3 separate regions of the Homo sapiens genome follow, and regions 1 and 3 are each linked to region 2. Evidence: fine-mapped expression QTL. A gene starts in region 2. Each other region holds a variant in brackets. All regions are shown on one strand. Distances are from middle to middle. Region 1 has its middle 48 kb from the start of CASD1. Region 2 holds the start of CASD1 (CAS1 domain sialic acid O acetyltransferase 1). Region 3 has its middle 53 kb from the start of CASD1.

The links. PIP is the estimated chance that this variant, and not a neighbour inherited with it, causes the effect. A credible set is the group of variants that fine-mapping cannot tell apart.
Region 1: its variant is the best candidate, but not a certain one, in a credible set for the expression of CASD1 in anterior cingulate cortex (GTEx, PIP 0.70).
Region 3: its variant is the best candidate, but not a certain one, in a credible set for the expression of CASD1 in tibial artery (GTEx, PIP 0.53).

The regions. Positions count from the first base shown.
Region 1 is chr7:94,459,636-94,464,865 of GRCh38, forward strand. No RefSeq gene overlaps it. Among named protein-coding and RNA genes, the nearest start is that of CASD1, 48 kb to the right of the region's middle. The variant G/A (reference allele first, on the strand shown) is at 2,765.
Region 2 is chr7:94,507,463-94,512,692 of GRCh38, forward strand. CASD1 (CAS1 domain sialic acid O acetyltransferase 1) reads left to right here and starts at 2,347. Exons shown (of 18, transcript NM_022900.5): 1 at 2,347-2,755. The coding sequence starts at 2,623. RefSeq lists enhancers at 1,632-2,620, 2,621-3,607 and silencers at 2,141-2,360, 2,401-2,550, 2,651-3,010.
Region 3 is chr7:94,560,263-94,565,492 of GRCh38, forward strand. It overlaps a transcript of CASD1 not described here. Among named protein-coding and RNA genes, the nearest start is that of CASD1, 53 kb to the left of the region's middle. The variant C/A (reference allele first, on the strand shown) is at 2,985.

The DNA.
Region 1 (5,230 bases), 48 kb before region 2:
AATATTTTAACTTTTTACTTTAGGTTCAGGGGTACATGTGCGGGTTTGCTATATAGGTAAACTTGTGACTCAGGGGTTTGGTGTACAGATTATTTTATCACGCAGGTATAAGCATGGTGCCTGACACTTTTTCTTTTTCTGAGCCTCTCCCTCCACCCACCCTCCACCCTCAAGTAGGCCCCAATGTCTGTTGTGCCCCTCTTTCTTTCCAACACATATATGTTTTATTCACTGAAAGAGTCTAGAAGCAATGACACTCTTTAAGAACTAACAATGAATATAAGTGAGTGCCTAGATTTTAGTTTCAAAATTTCATATTCCACTGAAAGGAATTCAAGATTTTTGGGGAAATAGCTGATTCTAGGACGGGAGCAAGAAAAGCACAAAATGAGTCTGAAACATCTTGTTGTACCGCAAAGTAAGACAGTACTAAAAGAATAACCGGAGCCAGCTCTGAAGGAACTCATGCTGGCTACATCTTGAAAATTTGAGTATTAAAAATATAATAATAATTGATCACAACCCAATGAATAAAATAGAAATCCTTGAGTTGATATAGACATACATACATACATACATACATACATACATACATACATACAGGATAAAGAAAAGCTCTTTCTTGGTAGAATTCTGTTAATAAAAGCCAAAAGAAAGAGAAATATAAAATTATCATATAGCAACCATCATAATAGTAATTGATGCAGACGGGAGCTGTCAATTGATGCCAAGTTTTCTTGATAGAAGTTTGAAGAAGAACAATATATTGGTATAATCTAGTATCTTTCTCCAAAATCTTCAACACTTACAAAGGGAAAATGGTGACTTTATAATGGAGAAATTTTGCAGAAACCAACATGATTAAGATCAGCATTATCAGTCACGGGACTGGTCAACATTATGTACCTCCAGATGGGTGCACTGAGAAGAACACAGCATCATATCTGTGGTATTTCCACCAAGTCAGCTAGGTCTAAGTCTGGACATAAAGAAACATCAATTGGACACAGAAAAGGGACATTCTACAAAACAGAAGACCTGTCCTTTAAAATTCTCAAGTTTATAACAAACAAAGACTGAGGAATTTCTCCAGACTGAAGGAAATTAAAGTCACAAAACTAAATACATCTGAACCTGGACAAGTAATGAAAAAAACACATGCACATACACACACTTTTGGAACATCTGATAAAATTTGAATGCATCTGTAGATTGGATTGTAATGATGCCTAATACCAGTTTTTGCTTTGGATTACTATATTGTCATTATGTAGAAGCGTGACTTTATTCTGGGGAAATATACATTTAAATATTTAGTTGTGATGGAGCATCATGTCCTTAATTTGCTCTTAAATTATTTAGAAAAGAATAACAATAGTTAAGGAGAGAGAGTACAAATGTTAACAATTGGGAAATCTGGATAAAGAGGATATGGCAGTTCTTTTTTTTTTTTTTTTTTGGCTGGAGTGCAGTGTTGAGATCATAGCTTACTGCAGCCTCAGACTCCTGGGCTCAAGTGATCCTCCCCAGGAGGTGGGATTACAGGTGCACACCACCATACCAGCCAAATTATTTGTATTTTGTTGCAAAGACAAGGTCTCTCTCTGTTGACCAGGCTGGTCTCAAACTCCTGTCCTCAAGCAATCCACCTCACACCCCACCGCCTGGCCCCTCTCCGTTCCTCCAAGTCTCAGCCTCCCAAAGTACTGGGATTACACACGTGAGCCATTGCACCCAGCCCGGCAATTCTTTATACTGTTCTTACAACTCTTTTGTACTTGGAAATTATTACAAAATATTTTTTAAGTAGAAAAAATTCTAAAAGCCACAAGTGAAAGAGAAAAAAAATTACTCACAAAGGAAGAAAAATCAGATTGATATTAGGCTTCTCATCAACAATATACGAAGATAATGAATTCACATTATCAGAATGTTAAAAGAATAAAACTTTAAAAATATAAATCTATATGCAGGCAAGTTTGCCCCAAAAAGTGAAATTAAGAGACTTTCATACATAGAACTCAGAAATTTTACCATCCTTTGGTGATCTTCGAAAAAATTGATAATAGCAACATACCAAACCAAAAAAGTGGACTAGAAGGAATTAATGGTATGCAATAATCAATAGACATCTTGTAAATCTTCATTGTCATATCCATGTAAGTACTAATTGTTTTTTAAATTTGTCTTTAATGGTGACTGGAGCTACAATCCCAGATGATAAAAAAAATAGATTTAATGAGATGGGAGTTAGGGAGTTCAGGTGAGTAAGAAAGACAAGAAAGAAGGACAAAACAAGCCTAGTTTTTTTTCTTTTTGGAGGGGGAAGAAGAAGATAAAGATACTCTTTACTTAAAAAGTGTGCATGCTAAAAACATGAAGATAACAGAGGAAAAAAGCATCAAAATATAATTTTCAAAGTTAAAAGCATGACTGTCATGAAAATATAGAAAGAACACATGTTAAAGATTTATAAAATGGCTTGTTTTTTTTTTGGTAAGCATTTAAAAATGTTAGAATAGGGCCAGGCATGGTGTCTCACACCTGTAATCCCAGCACTTTGGGAGGCTGAGGCGAGGGGATCACTTGAGCCCAGCAGTTCGATACCAGCCTCAGCAACAATGTGAGACATGGCCCCCCCACCGATCACATATCTATAAAAATAAATAAATAAATAAATGTTTAAAAACAAAAATGTTAGAATAAAATTGCTAGGTTAGACAATATTAAGAAAAATTATCCAAAATGTGGAATTAAAGCAGCT[G/A]CCTTTCGATATTATAAAGGGGCACAGACCTAATCAAGGGTTACTTAAGGCAGATTCTGCAAATGTTTTCTGTAGAGAACTAGAGAATATGTAAATATTTTTGGCATTGCAAGCTACAGGTTCTTAGCACAAAATCAGCCAAAGGTAATACATGAACTAATAGGCTGGCTAGGTTTGGCCCATAGCAAGCCAGATTTGCCCTGCAGGCTATAGTTATCAACCCCTGATTTACAGAAATGTACTCTTTCGACTCACTGCTTATCATTGATTAAGGGTCCAGATTTAATGAATTTACATATTAACTTTTATATTTTTTCCAGTGGAGGTGTAAATAATTTCTTTTGGTAGAAAACAGCTTCAAAGGTTGTGGTTTGTTATCCTGTAGACTATTAGACAGTTTTATTTTTAAATTTTCTTTGAACATGTTATTAAATGACAGAAATATGTAGCTTCCCAAATGTTGTTTGAAGTTATCTTAATATTTTACTAGTTCTCTCATTAATAAATGAGTTGAATAAAATGTTTGTCATATAAACATTTTTTATGAGAGTCATTAATTTTACCTTTTTGAAAATTACACTTTAACAATACAAAATGTACTCTAGGAAAAAACAAAACAAAACAGTTATGAATAGGATTATCATTCTTAATGGACAAAAATCTACAAATTAATATGTAACTTCGTAGTGTCTAAGCTATAGTCAAATAGCAAACAGCAAATTTAAACATGGGCATATTCCTCTAGATCACTAAGTAATCTGCTTTCCTTAGTCACCCCCAGTATGACATGAAAGGATATGCTTTATTCCCTCTGCCTTATTTCCCAGTTTTGGGATAAATTTTTTTTTTTTTTTTTGAGACAGAGTCTCTGTCTGTCGCCCAGGCTGGAATGCAGTGGCGTGATCTCAGCTCACTGCAAGCTCCGCCTCTGGGATCTCGCCATTCTCCTGCCTCAGCCTCCCGAGTAGCTGGGACTACAGGGGCCCACCACCACGCCTGGCTAATTTTTTGTATTTTTAGTAGAGACGGGGTTTCACCATGTTAGCCAGGATGGTCTCAATCTCCTGACTTCGTGATCCACCCGCCTCGGCCTCCCAAAATGCTGGGATCACAGGCGTGAGCCACCACACCCAGTCTTGGGAGAAAATTTTAACAAGAGAAAACAATGAGGAAAATCTTTATTTTATGCAACATAAAAAAGGACATGAGAAAAAGAAATAAGAATTATAATAAATTTAAAATTCAGGATGAGAAGGTAGAAATAATTCTAAACGTAGCAGTAATTATGATAAATATGAATGGGTGAAATTCCCAAAATAGATTTAAGCTAATCAGTCTCTGTTAACAAACTATTGAGTGTTGTTAACATGATATACAAATTAAAACAACACAGGCAGGTTTTAAAAGAGTAGGAAAAAAACATACCAGGCAAATTTTTTTTTTGACGGTACAAGGTGGGTAGCTTAGTTGTCATATGACATATAGTACTGGTTCCTAAATTTGTCTGTGAATCAGAATTATCTGAATTGCTTGTAAAGACTCCTGGGTCTGACTCCAGACCTACTGAATAGGAATTTCTAAAGAAGTGATGTCCAGGAATCTCTCATTTTAGCTAGCTCTACAAGTGGCTCTTGTTCAGCCCTCTAGGCCTTAGTCTGTGGACCTCAGTTTGAAAATCACTAATAAAGACAGGACTGGAAGCTGGATATCTCCTTCCTGCTTCTGCCACCAATGCCATGTGATCTTTTCAACCTATAAATTTTCTCCATTCTGAAACGTCCAATGACAATAATAATTACAGAAGCTCCTCCTTACCAAACACATGGAGATAATCTAGGAACAAACTAGGTTATACCATAGGGTTGTGTTTTGAGCTTTCTGGGAGAGGCATACTGTAAATATAAGGGCTTATGAATGCAACTACTTCTATCTGGGGATTTTTTTTTTTTCAATCTAAGATGAACTTGGTGATACTAATTGGTCACACAACACACATATAAACAATACAATTGCTAAATGCAGTGAGGCCCCAGACTAAGAAGTTAAAGGCAAGGCCAAACACCGGCTAGATAGAACTGGTGGGGTTTTTTCCCCTTGTTTTCCTTTTTTTTAAAAAGACTTAAAAATACAAACCCTTGTGTCCCAGGCTAACCTCCTTTTATTATTTTCCTTCCAGCTTTTATTTTAGATTCAAGGGGTACATGTGCAGATTTGTTATATAATTTGTAAATTATGTGTCACAGGGCTTTGGTATACAGATTATTTTGTCACCCAAGTAACAAGCATAGTACCTACTAGGTAGTTTTTTGATCCTCACCCTCCTCCCATCCTCCACACTCAAGTAGGCCCCGGTATTTATCTTTCCCTTCTTTATGTCTACGTGTACTTAGTGTATAAGTGAGAATGTGCAATATTTAGTTTCTGTAAATTAGTTCAGTCACCATGGAAAGTTGTTTGGAGATGTCT
Region 2 (5,230 bases):
AATGACTAAGTGATCCTAAGGTCACTTAAAAACAGCAAGAAGTGGCTGAAAACAAAGTCTCCGCTCTGTTTTAGATGGATACCAAATAAGGAAGAATGGTCAACAATGTCAGGTGCCACAAAATGGTCCAGGAAGATAAGGAATATAAAGTGTCCCTTGGATTTAACAAGTAGTCATACCACACAGCCTTGGTGAAGAACAATGAAATGGCTGAAGAGAGAATGCTAATTGAGCCAGTGAAGGCAGAGAGTCAACACTGCTCTTTCTAGATGTTTGCCAGAGGAGGAAAGAGTTGATGAGGTAAACATGCAGGAACAGAGTCCATGGGTGTTTTTCATTAAAAAAAAATTTTTTTTGGAGGAAGGCAAACAGCAAGGTGATAGGGAGAATTGGAAGACACAGAAAAAGAATGATTTGCATGGGGATAACTGATGGAGGAATCAACACCCTCAAGAAAGGAGGATAAGAAAAGATTCAGAGCAGAGGTAGAGAGATTGGCCTTAAACTTGAGAGAAGAAAAAGGAGGTTCACAAGCTATTTACAGTATTTAAGAAAGCCTTCTGGAAATTGCAATTAATAGAATGTCAAGTTTCTTTACTTTTTGCAGGCATTAACTCAACCCTTTGGGTTAACACTGGTTATTGCATGCTGATCAGAAATTCTAATTTGCTGGTAATGACATCATAGAAATGTCTAGGATGTGATTGGCAGACCATATATTGTTGGCAGAGTTATCTGGTTTTTACAATACCCAATTCTTACAACATGTGATCAACCTCTGATCAGAATGACAGCCAAAATTAAAAGACTATTTGCAGGGAACAGTGCCTAAGTGTTTGTACACTTATTTAACTTTATTGCTTATTAGCATTACATCCATGACAGTGATGTATGTGATTTCATTTAAGTGACAAAATCTTTCAAGATATAAAGTCCATGGATGAAAACATAATAAAGAGTCCTTGGATGAAGAGAATGGGAATGAGTAGACAAGATCTCTACAGTCCCTTCATATCTAATATTCTATAATTTTAAGAGGGGCCTATAAGCACAAGTTCAGGAATGGCTAAATGGGAAAGTTGTAAAGAATACTTGACAACACCCCAACTAAACAATGACTCACTCTAAACAAGGCAAGGCAAGTAGAATGGCAAGCAATGTAAATAACCATTCCCATCTGGAAGGCAACAAGAAAAACCATTTAAAAAAGGTGGGGTGGGAGCGAGAGGAGAGTAGGGATAACAATGCTTTATTAAGGAAATGGAGTGCTGGCTTTATTGAGAATCACAAAACATTAACCAACGTTAGTAGCGGGGATGATTGTCATAAGCACATTAAGAAAAATTTTTTTTGGCTAGGCTTGGTGGCTCATGCCTGTAATCCCAGCACTTTGGGAGGCCGAGATGGGCAGATCATTTGAGGTCAGGAGTTCGAGACCAGCCTGACCAAAATGGTGAAACCCCCGTCTCTATTAAAATACAAAAATTAAACGGGTGTGGTGGCGGGCGCCTGCAATCTCTGCTACTCGGCAGGCTCAGGCAGGACAACCATTTGAACCCAGGAGGGGGAGGCTGCAGTGAGCGAAGATCACGCCACTGCACTAGAGCTTGGGCGACAGGGTGAGACTCCCTCTCAAAAAAAACGAATTTTTTTGGCACATCGACCTAGCCAAACTTGCGTAAATACAAGTGAGAGTCAGACTCTTTTCTCATCAACACCTACACTAAGTTAGGCTCCTTCTGTACCTTCCATTCGGAACTTTGGTGTACTTTCGCCCACCAGAACTGGGCAAACTGAGGACATTAAAAAAACGGTTTAAGAGAAACTGGCCAGAGCGGTGAGTTAAGTGTTAAGACTGGTTTCACTCCTGGGTTGGATGCCAGCAATCCATCGGCCAGCACCATCAACTGGATCCATCAATCCAATCTGGCCAGCACCCAGGGGCAGCCAGACTGACCAGCCAGGCCACGGATAGCCAGACAATAAACGACCTTAGGGTGTCCTTCGCATCCCGCTGGGCGGGTTCTGGCAGTAGAAGGCTGAGAAAGGGGAGTGTTGGGGAAGGAAGGAATGGGACGATGTGTACTTTTCTCCCGGAACTGTAGTTCTATTGCCCCAACCTGGGCTCAGGTAGCGGCCAGTAAACTAGGAGACAGCCCTAAGGCTCGCGTCCGGGCCAGGCGGGTACCCCTAGTACTCTCTCCCCACACCCCCATGGCTCTGCCGCAGCCGCCGCCGCCCGCCGGGGCGCGTGACCCGGTGACCCCGGAGCACTGGGCATCCGGACCCCCCTCGCAGGCGCAGCCGCTATTAAGGCAGGAGGCTAAAGAGGAGGAGGAAGGGGAGGAGACAGGCGTCCAGGGCGCCTGGGGAACCGGCACGGCGGAGCAGCGGCGGCGGGGCTGGGGGGAGGCCGCCGAGTCGGCCGCGGCCGAGGAGGGGCAGGCGGAGGTCGGGGGCGCCGCGGCCGCGGGGTCAGGTTCCCCGGCGGGAGGCGCAGGTGGCGGCCTGGGGAGCTGGCGGCCGCTCCTCGCCTGGCTGCAGCGGCGGCAGCCCCAGTGCTGCCCCTGTGCGGCGCCCCTTTCCCGCTCCGCCGCGCACTGTTGTCATGGAGGAACCAAGATGGCGGCTCTGGCCTACAACCTGGGCAAGCGGGAGATCAACCACTACTTCAGCGTGAGGAGCGCCAAGGTGCTGGCGCTGGTGGCCGTGCTGCTGCTCGCAGCGTGCCACCTCGCCTCCCGCCGCTACCGAGGTGAGCGGGCCCTCCCCTCTGCCCGGGCAGGCCGTGGGGGAGGCGGCGACGCGGCGGCTGGAGGCCGCCCCCATCGCCCAACACACGCCCACGCGGCCTTCCGCCGGCCCGGCCCGCGGGGGAGGCGGTTCCCCCAGGTGTCCCCAGCAGCGGCCGGCGCCCGAGGCCAACTGAGTGGACCCCAGTGGGGGCCACCAAAGGACAATGGCTGGTGGTTCTGGGCGCCCCGAGCCGCCCGCGCTGGGGTCGGGGGCGCCAACCCTGGACCTGGCCAAAAGTGCTGCTGAGGTCCGGCTCCTGAGCGGTCTGGGTTCGGGGAGACGCTCCAGATCAGGGGCTCGCGTGCAGGAAGTCGGACAGGCGGTCCTTGGGGGCAGCCCGGGGCGCATGAAGCCCAAGGCCGCCCTGCAAGGGGCACCGCTGCCAGCAGTGGGGTCGCAGGTCCTGCCTCTTAAGGGTCCGGCTCCTTAGCCTTTGTTTAATTTTGCCTCTGCCCTGTAACACCCAGTCTGGGCTGTTGGACAGCGGCAAGGGCCGCCCCCATTTTCCTTTGCCAAAAGGGCGACAGCTGGCAAAAGATGCCTGTGGCCAAATGGAAGAGGTGCCACCCAGCTTTTGTGATGCAGAAACGTTTAAAGGCTTCGGAGTGCACACTTTTTACAAAGTTAAGGCACCAGAGCAGATTTTTGGAAGGAAGTTGTGGGTTGACAGGCGTAAAGGTGGGCAGTTGAAAGCAAGTTGTAAGCACTTTGAAAGCAGGCCTTGGCCATGGGTTTTGAAATTGGTGTAAAGGGGAAAAGGAAATATGACCTGATTTGAGAATGAATTATCTTTCAGTAATCAAGGGATATTTACTTCTCCTTGCTGATTGATTGTTTTTTTTCCTTTGTAAAAATGTCACTGGGAGAGAGGCTGACAGGCAGAGGGAAATTAATAATGATAGGATCTTTTATTTTTGGCTCTTAATACTATCAAAGCCATTATCTGGCCAGCTCTTGGTGACTGTGAGATTAATCAGTCAAGATGTAATGTGTAATGGACAGGTGCAAATTAGCGCTGTGCCCGTTTAAATTTACACCTACTTTGGCAAAATATCCATAAACGGGTTGTTGGAGTCTGCGCTGTATTCTCATCCCAGGAGATCTTTCAATTTTGGTCAGTTTTGCTGCTTTATTTCTTCCAACTCTTGAGAATTAAAAATATTGTACTCTAGAGCCATACTGGGTGAACAGCTTTTAGTATACTAAATTGATTTTAAAAATTAGATTCTTTATAACCTTTTGGCCTCTCTCCAGCTCTCTCCAGATCACAGCCATACGACCTTGCAAGGCCTTGGTTTATCTACAATCATGTAAAACTAGCAATGTTGATGCATTGATTTGTGGTGGTTTTGAGGAAATATTTCTTTTAACTACTATTAATCATTTTATGCCAATTTGGTATAAAAGAACAGTAATTTAATTCAATTTATGTAATGGTAGTAGAGAGAAATTTTATAACTACAGTACTATTGTCCTAAGATAAATAAACATCTAGTCCCCTTCCTTTTATTTTTTTGTGCTTTTTATCTTTTGATAACCTTGGACTACTATTATTTTTAGATTATAGATTTCATCTTATCAAGATCTGTCATCAGCAGGGAGAATAGAATGTCAGATGGGGACTTATGAGTCAGTGTAGCAATCTGGGATTGTTTATAAAGCCTTCTCCAGAAGTAAGTCATCAGTTTCCATAGGTACTTCAGTGCCTTGAGTGTGAAGCATACACCTGGTGAGTGTACTTGCCCAGACTGAATGTCAAGAATTTGAGCTGAAGACTGGGAAAAATAAACATCTTACCAGGAATATCCTCATGCTTTGGCAGTATCAAACTGAGTCAGGTGCAATGCCCTTCACACAAAGATAATCATACATTTGACTCACATTATAACTCTTTAGGACAGAGGTGGCCAATCTTTTGGCTTCCGTGGGCCCCATTGGAAGAAGAAGAACTGTCTTTGGGCCACACATAATATTAACACTCATGATAGCTGATGAGCTTAAAAAAAATTGCAAAAAATCTCGTATCATTTAAAGAAGGTTTACGAATTTGGGCTGCATTCAAAGCCATCCTGGGCCTCCAGCAGCCCAGGCCATGGCTTGGAAAATCTTGCTTTAGAATAAGAAAGGATCTTACATTAGATGAAGGAGATTAGGCTGTGTATTTGGATTTTGAATGTGTGAGTATGAGTGTGCTGAGGCAAGGTAGAGTGAATGCAGTTTGGATATACATATTCAGTATCTCTTGCTTTACAAACTACCGAAAGTAAAGGAAAGAATTACCCACTACAGAAAGTAAAGCTTGGCGAATACTGTGTGCTAACGTTGAGCACTTATATGTCAGGGACTGTTCTACTAAAGGTTTTACATGTTTTAACTCATTTTGTCTTTATAACCATTCTATGAGGTAGATACAATTACCATATTTCACTCCTCT
Region 3 (5,230 bases), 53 kb after region 2:
ATAGTGGCAGTTATTTCTGGTGTTGAGAGAAAACTAGAACTAAGAATTCAGCACTTTCTTTCCTTGACCCCTTCCATTTTATCCCCACCTCTAGACCCTGTCACTGGGAGAGACAAAGTGATGGAAAAACATTTAGTTGAAGTCTGAGGAATCCAGTACTTCCAAAGTACGTAATGCATAAGGCACATGGAACTGGAGCCCTTTCTCAGAGACTACAAAATTAAAAATGGAAACTATAAAGAAGTAATACCTGGGCCAGAATATCCAGGAAAAGTTTTAGAGTAACGGGAGAAGTGGGATTTGTAAAGTTGTATATTTGGATATATTATTTACACTAATATCAGTGTGGAATGGATGCAAGAATATATAGATTAATGGATAGAATCAGCATAAAAACAGATTTTATCAAAAGATATTAGAATAAGGTAATGGTTTGATTTCACATTACTGGGGAAAGGTAGAAATATTCTTTAAATAGCCCTGGGACTATTGCTTAATTGAGGGGTGAGAGTGATAAATTCCCATTCTTACTCTGTATACCAAAAGAAATATAAAATGATTAATAGGTTTAAAGACATGTAAAATAAACAGTAGAAAATGTAGGTGAACATCTCATTCTTAGATGAGAAATGACCTGTTAAGGCTAAAAGGTAAATCCAGAATTGCTACATCTATTACGTGAAAATTTAAAATTTCAGTATGCCCAAAAACATAATAGAAAAAATACAAGTGGGAACATTTTAGAACATTAATATTTGATGAGAATTTAATGTCCTGGTTCGTGACCAGCCTGGCCAATATGGCAAAACCCCATCTCTACTAAAAATACAAAAAATTAGCCAGGTGTGGTGGTGGGGGCCTGTAATTCCAGCTACTTGGGAGGCTGAGGCAGGAGAATCGTTTGAACCCAGAGGCAGAGGTTGCAATGAGCCGAGATCACGCTATTGCACTCCAGCCTGGGCAACAAGAGCGAAACTCTGCCTCAAAAAAAAATTAATATCCTGGGTATATAGAGAGCTCTTATAGTTTAGAAACACCAAGCTGTTTTCCAAATTTCACTTGGTTCCTAATTCTACACAGAAGGTCACTTCATTCAGATACCTCAATGTTCATTACATAAATAATTTAACTTGGAAGAACATCAGGAAACCACAGTACTCAAAGTTAGGCTTTCTATGGATGCTTTTTGGGAATTGCGGGGAGGGCAAAGATTTTTTAATGGCCACTGTTATGCCTTCCTTAAACATTTTCCAAACTAAAATTAATTAAGACTAGGTTATATTGAGCAGAACTTTGGAACCTAAATGGCCCATCTGTCTGTGTGAGAGCACAGATTCAATTTTTTTTTTTCCTAAAGAGAACCTCGGTCAAACTCTAGAGTATTCTCTCAGAAACTACTGATTATTAAACTCAAGTTTGCCTAAAAGATGTCACTCCTACACCAGCTTAATGTCTCATTAAGACAGTTTTTCTTAGAACCCTAGGGTGGCTGAACTCCAGTCATGAACCGTCAGCTAGCTAATATCTATCTTCTGTGAGTTTGACTGTGGTTAACAGTATTTATAAAGGAATGTTAGGGATTTGCTTTTTATCACTTCCTCAGATACTTTAGAATGTACCTGAGAATTAAGTCTGGCAAGCACCTAGCAAAGACCGCCTGGACAGTAACTTCCTGACTTACCCCTAGAATTTCTCTTGAGTTTGAAGCCATTGGTTAGCATTGCAGGACATTCTATAAACAATTCTATGAAACTCATCATTGTGTCAACTGTAGGAATGTTGATTACATCACACAATGGGCTCTTTTTGTGGAGTCTGAAGTTATTCTGACCTTACTGTAATATTTGCACCTCTTGTAAACAGTTCATTTGCTACTATCTTAGGTACATTGTGAGTTGGCTTTTTATGTTTGCCGATAAGAAGCAAGAGCTAAATTTGTGCTCCATCTAGAAAACAGGGCACTTTGGTATTGTTTATATTAGTCTCATTCTTGATCCCTTTTTCCTTCTCATATACTTCAGATGATGTTATTTGGCTATATTTTGCCTAGCCTTATAAGCCATCTTACATTCTTTTTTGAAATGAGGCAGTCTGGTAGTCCTAAGTGTTTCTTCAGACCACACCAGTCAGGATGATCAAGAGTCATAGTATATACAAATGGTAGTAGTAATATTTTTGCCTCACTGGTTATGTTTGAAAATCCTAGTCTTCCAAGTCATTTATCTCCTCATTAGGGTCCCTGAGTTGCTCACGAAATGTCCCTATAACAAATGTTCACAGTTCTCTGCAATTTATGAAAATAAGGCCGAAAGTTCTCCTTATCCTGTTCACTTCATGTGTTTCTTTTCAGTCGATACAGTTTCCTTTTTTTTTTCTTTGAGATTACCAAAAATTCCAATGGTAGCTATGCCATTTCCTTCTCTAACTGCCAATTGTTTCCTCTTTTGAAATTGCTGCTCTGTGGACCAGATGTCAGGCTGCAAACTCAAGGTGTTGGTACACACTTGCCCTTATGACGTAGCAATAACCTCTTCTATGGATGCTTCTTACTGCCATGTCAACATGTTCCAGTCTGGGAGTGGTTTCATTTTAGACCAGGTGGTCTCCTACTGGGATGTAGTCTCAGCTGACCCCCTTTTTTTTTATGCCAGAGAATGCTGGAGGATTCAGGAAAATTCCTGTATTTTACAGCTTAGTTTTCCTGGCCCTTCAGAAAAATAAGAGACACCGGAACAACCTGATATGATGGTACCTAGAAGGAGTAAGATCTTCCTTATGCTCAACCCTATCTTACATACAAAGGCCTTTGTAGAAACAGCAGTATCACCTTTAGGGGGGTTCTGCTCTATGAATCTCCAATGATGTATGACAAAGTGAGTAGTGACTAAATTGCTGGAGAAATGAGTAGCAAGAAGGGACATGGAACCTGAAGACGTTGAGTGGACCACACAAGAAAAGTGGTTATACTACCTCCCTCCTTACCC[C/A]CTTTTCCAAATATCCTAAACGGAGGCAACATTAAAGAGGCGTCTTCCATGCAAGGGTCAGAAAAGGCCTCTGTGGAGATAATAGTTAAGCTCTGGAAAACTCTTATACATAGCTAAGGAATTTGAGGAAAAACAATTTTTTGGTGGTTTGGTCAATTAGAGAATGAAGCCATAACTAATTACTTACCACTTTCAATTTTTTTCTTAAAATGCCTGCTTATTTTTTTTTATCCTTGTGCAACTTAAGGGCTTGTCTTTTTCTTGGTAATTTAGAAGTATTCCTTGTGTAATAAGGATGAAAACTCTAATTTTGCAAACACTTTTCCCAGTTGCCAGTTGTCTTCTGTTTTGACTGTTATTTCTTACATTTTTTGTTTTATCAAATCCATACATTTTTCATTAATAGCACAGCCCTCATTTAGCCCCCCTCCCCCACGCCCCCGCTGAAAGCTGGCTACCATTTTTATCATTTGGTATATGTCCAGAGCAGTATCCCTAAGTGTGGAATGTGTTGCCCCCAGAACCCAAAGAGCCTACTAGGCACTAGGAGCTTCTTTCTTTGCAGTAGGGAATACAAGATGCAGCAATGTGTTTTTTATTTTGATGGACATGTCTTGTCATAGCCCTGACTGCTGGACTCTTAAAAAGTGTACTTAAGTGGCAAGACTACTAGTCTTTTAATGGCTTATTTCCCATACTCTAGAGTACGCATGTCTCACCAAGACCTCCAGTGTGATAACCAGTTTATGAGCATGATGTCCTCAACATAATCAACATAATATCCTATGGGATGTTTAGATAGTTTAGATCTCTTCAGACTATTTTATGACACAGCAAAAGAGTTACCATAGCGAAGAAGCAAATGAGTATTTTTGTCTCTTTCATGTGAATGCACACAATTTCTGATTAGAATGGAAAGAACACATTCACTAAGCCAGTAGACATGTACCTGAGGCCTTACTACTCTGCTCTAGCAATGAAACTGTGTCTGGCACAACAGTTGTGGTCCAGGCTACTGCTTGGTTGAGCTTGTTGTAGTGTACTGATATTCCTCAAGATCCATCTGGTTTCTGCAGGGCCAGACTAATGAATTAAAGTGATATGATAGGGACCACTATCCCTGCATTCTTTGGATCTTTAATGGTTGCACTAATACCTTCCATCACCCCTGGGATAAGAAATTGTAATTTACCGTCTTTGGCAGTTAGGGAGGCAGTTTCAAAGTCTTCCACTTGGCCTTCATCCTCTATGATAGCTCTTGCCCCACAGGCAAAGGACCCAATTGAGGCTAACTTCAATTTTCAAGTATATAAATTCCAATTATACATTCAGGAAATGACTGCAGGGTCCTGGCTAAAGTAGTAGTAAATGGGGTGCATGGTCCAACAGGATGGATCCATGGACATAGTGAACCTACTTTGGCCAGAACCCCATTTACTACTTAGTCTTTGCGTGCGCCCACTCTGAAGGCCATGAAAATACTTTGGGTCTTCATGTATCAATGTCAAATAGTTGTCAAAAAGGCTGGTTACTCTCCTTTTAACAGCAACAATCACATTAGTAAATGTCTGTAAATCTCTATGAGGGAAGAACTGAAGAAAGCTTTGCAGTACTCTATATCTTTGTCATTGCATTGCAGGGTTCTTTCTCTTGGGAAATTGGCTAACTCTTTAGGTAATGGGTTCCAGATCTGAACATAGTCTCAGATCTGGGAAATCAGCAAGGAATTGCAGTGCTTTATTGGGCTACAGCTCTCAGCCTCCTGCTCCTCTATTCTTGCCTTCTGGTTGTATATGTTAAGTAGCACAGTAATTCGCTGCCCATCTATTTTTCCCCTAGAGACACCATATTCTATTATCTATGTATACTACTCCTTCCCATTAAGACCCTTTGGCTACCCCCAAGACTCTAATGGTAAAGCAACTCTGACACTTATGTGCCACTACCTGGCCTCTATTATTTTGGGGCCTATCAACCCATTGTGAATAGCAAGACTAGTTCTGTGTATATTCCCAACCCATGTTTCAGAGTCCCAGGCTTCACATAAGGGTCCTAAATTTAGCGTAATAGACCTGCCTTGGCTGAGCATTTAAACACCTCTGGTGCTCTGTAACCCTAGTTATTAAATCCTGAACTTACCACCCACTGAAGGTATAGTTCCTCTTTGTAAGCGTCCTAAAAGGTCCTGTGGCTGTAAAACTTAGCTTATGTCTGTTAACTGCCTTCAGCTTCTCATCCTCCATCTA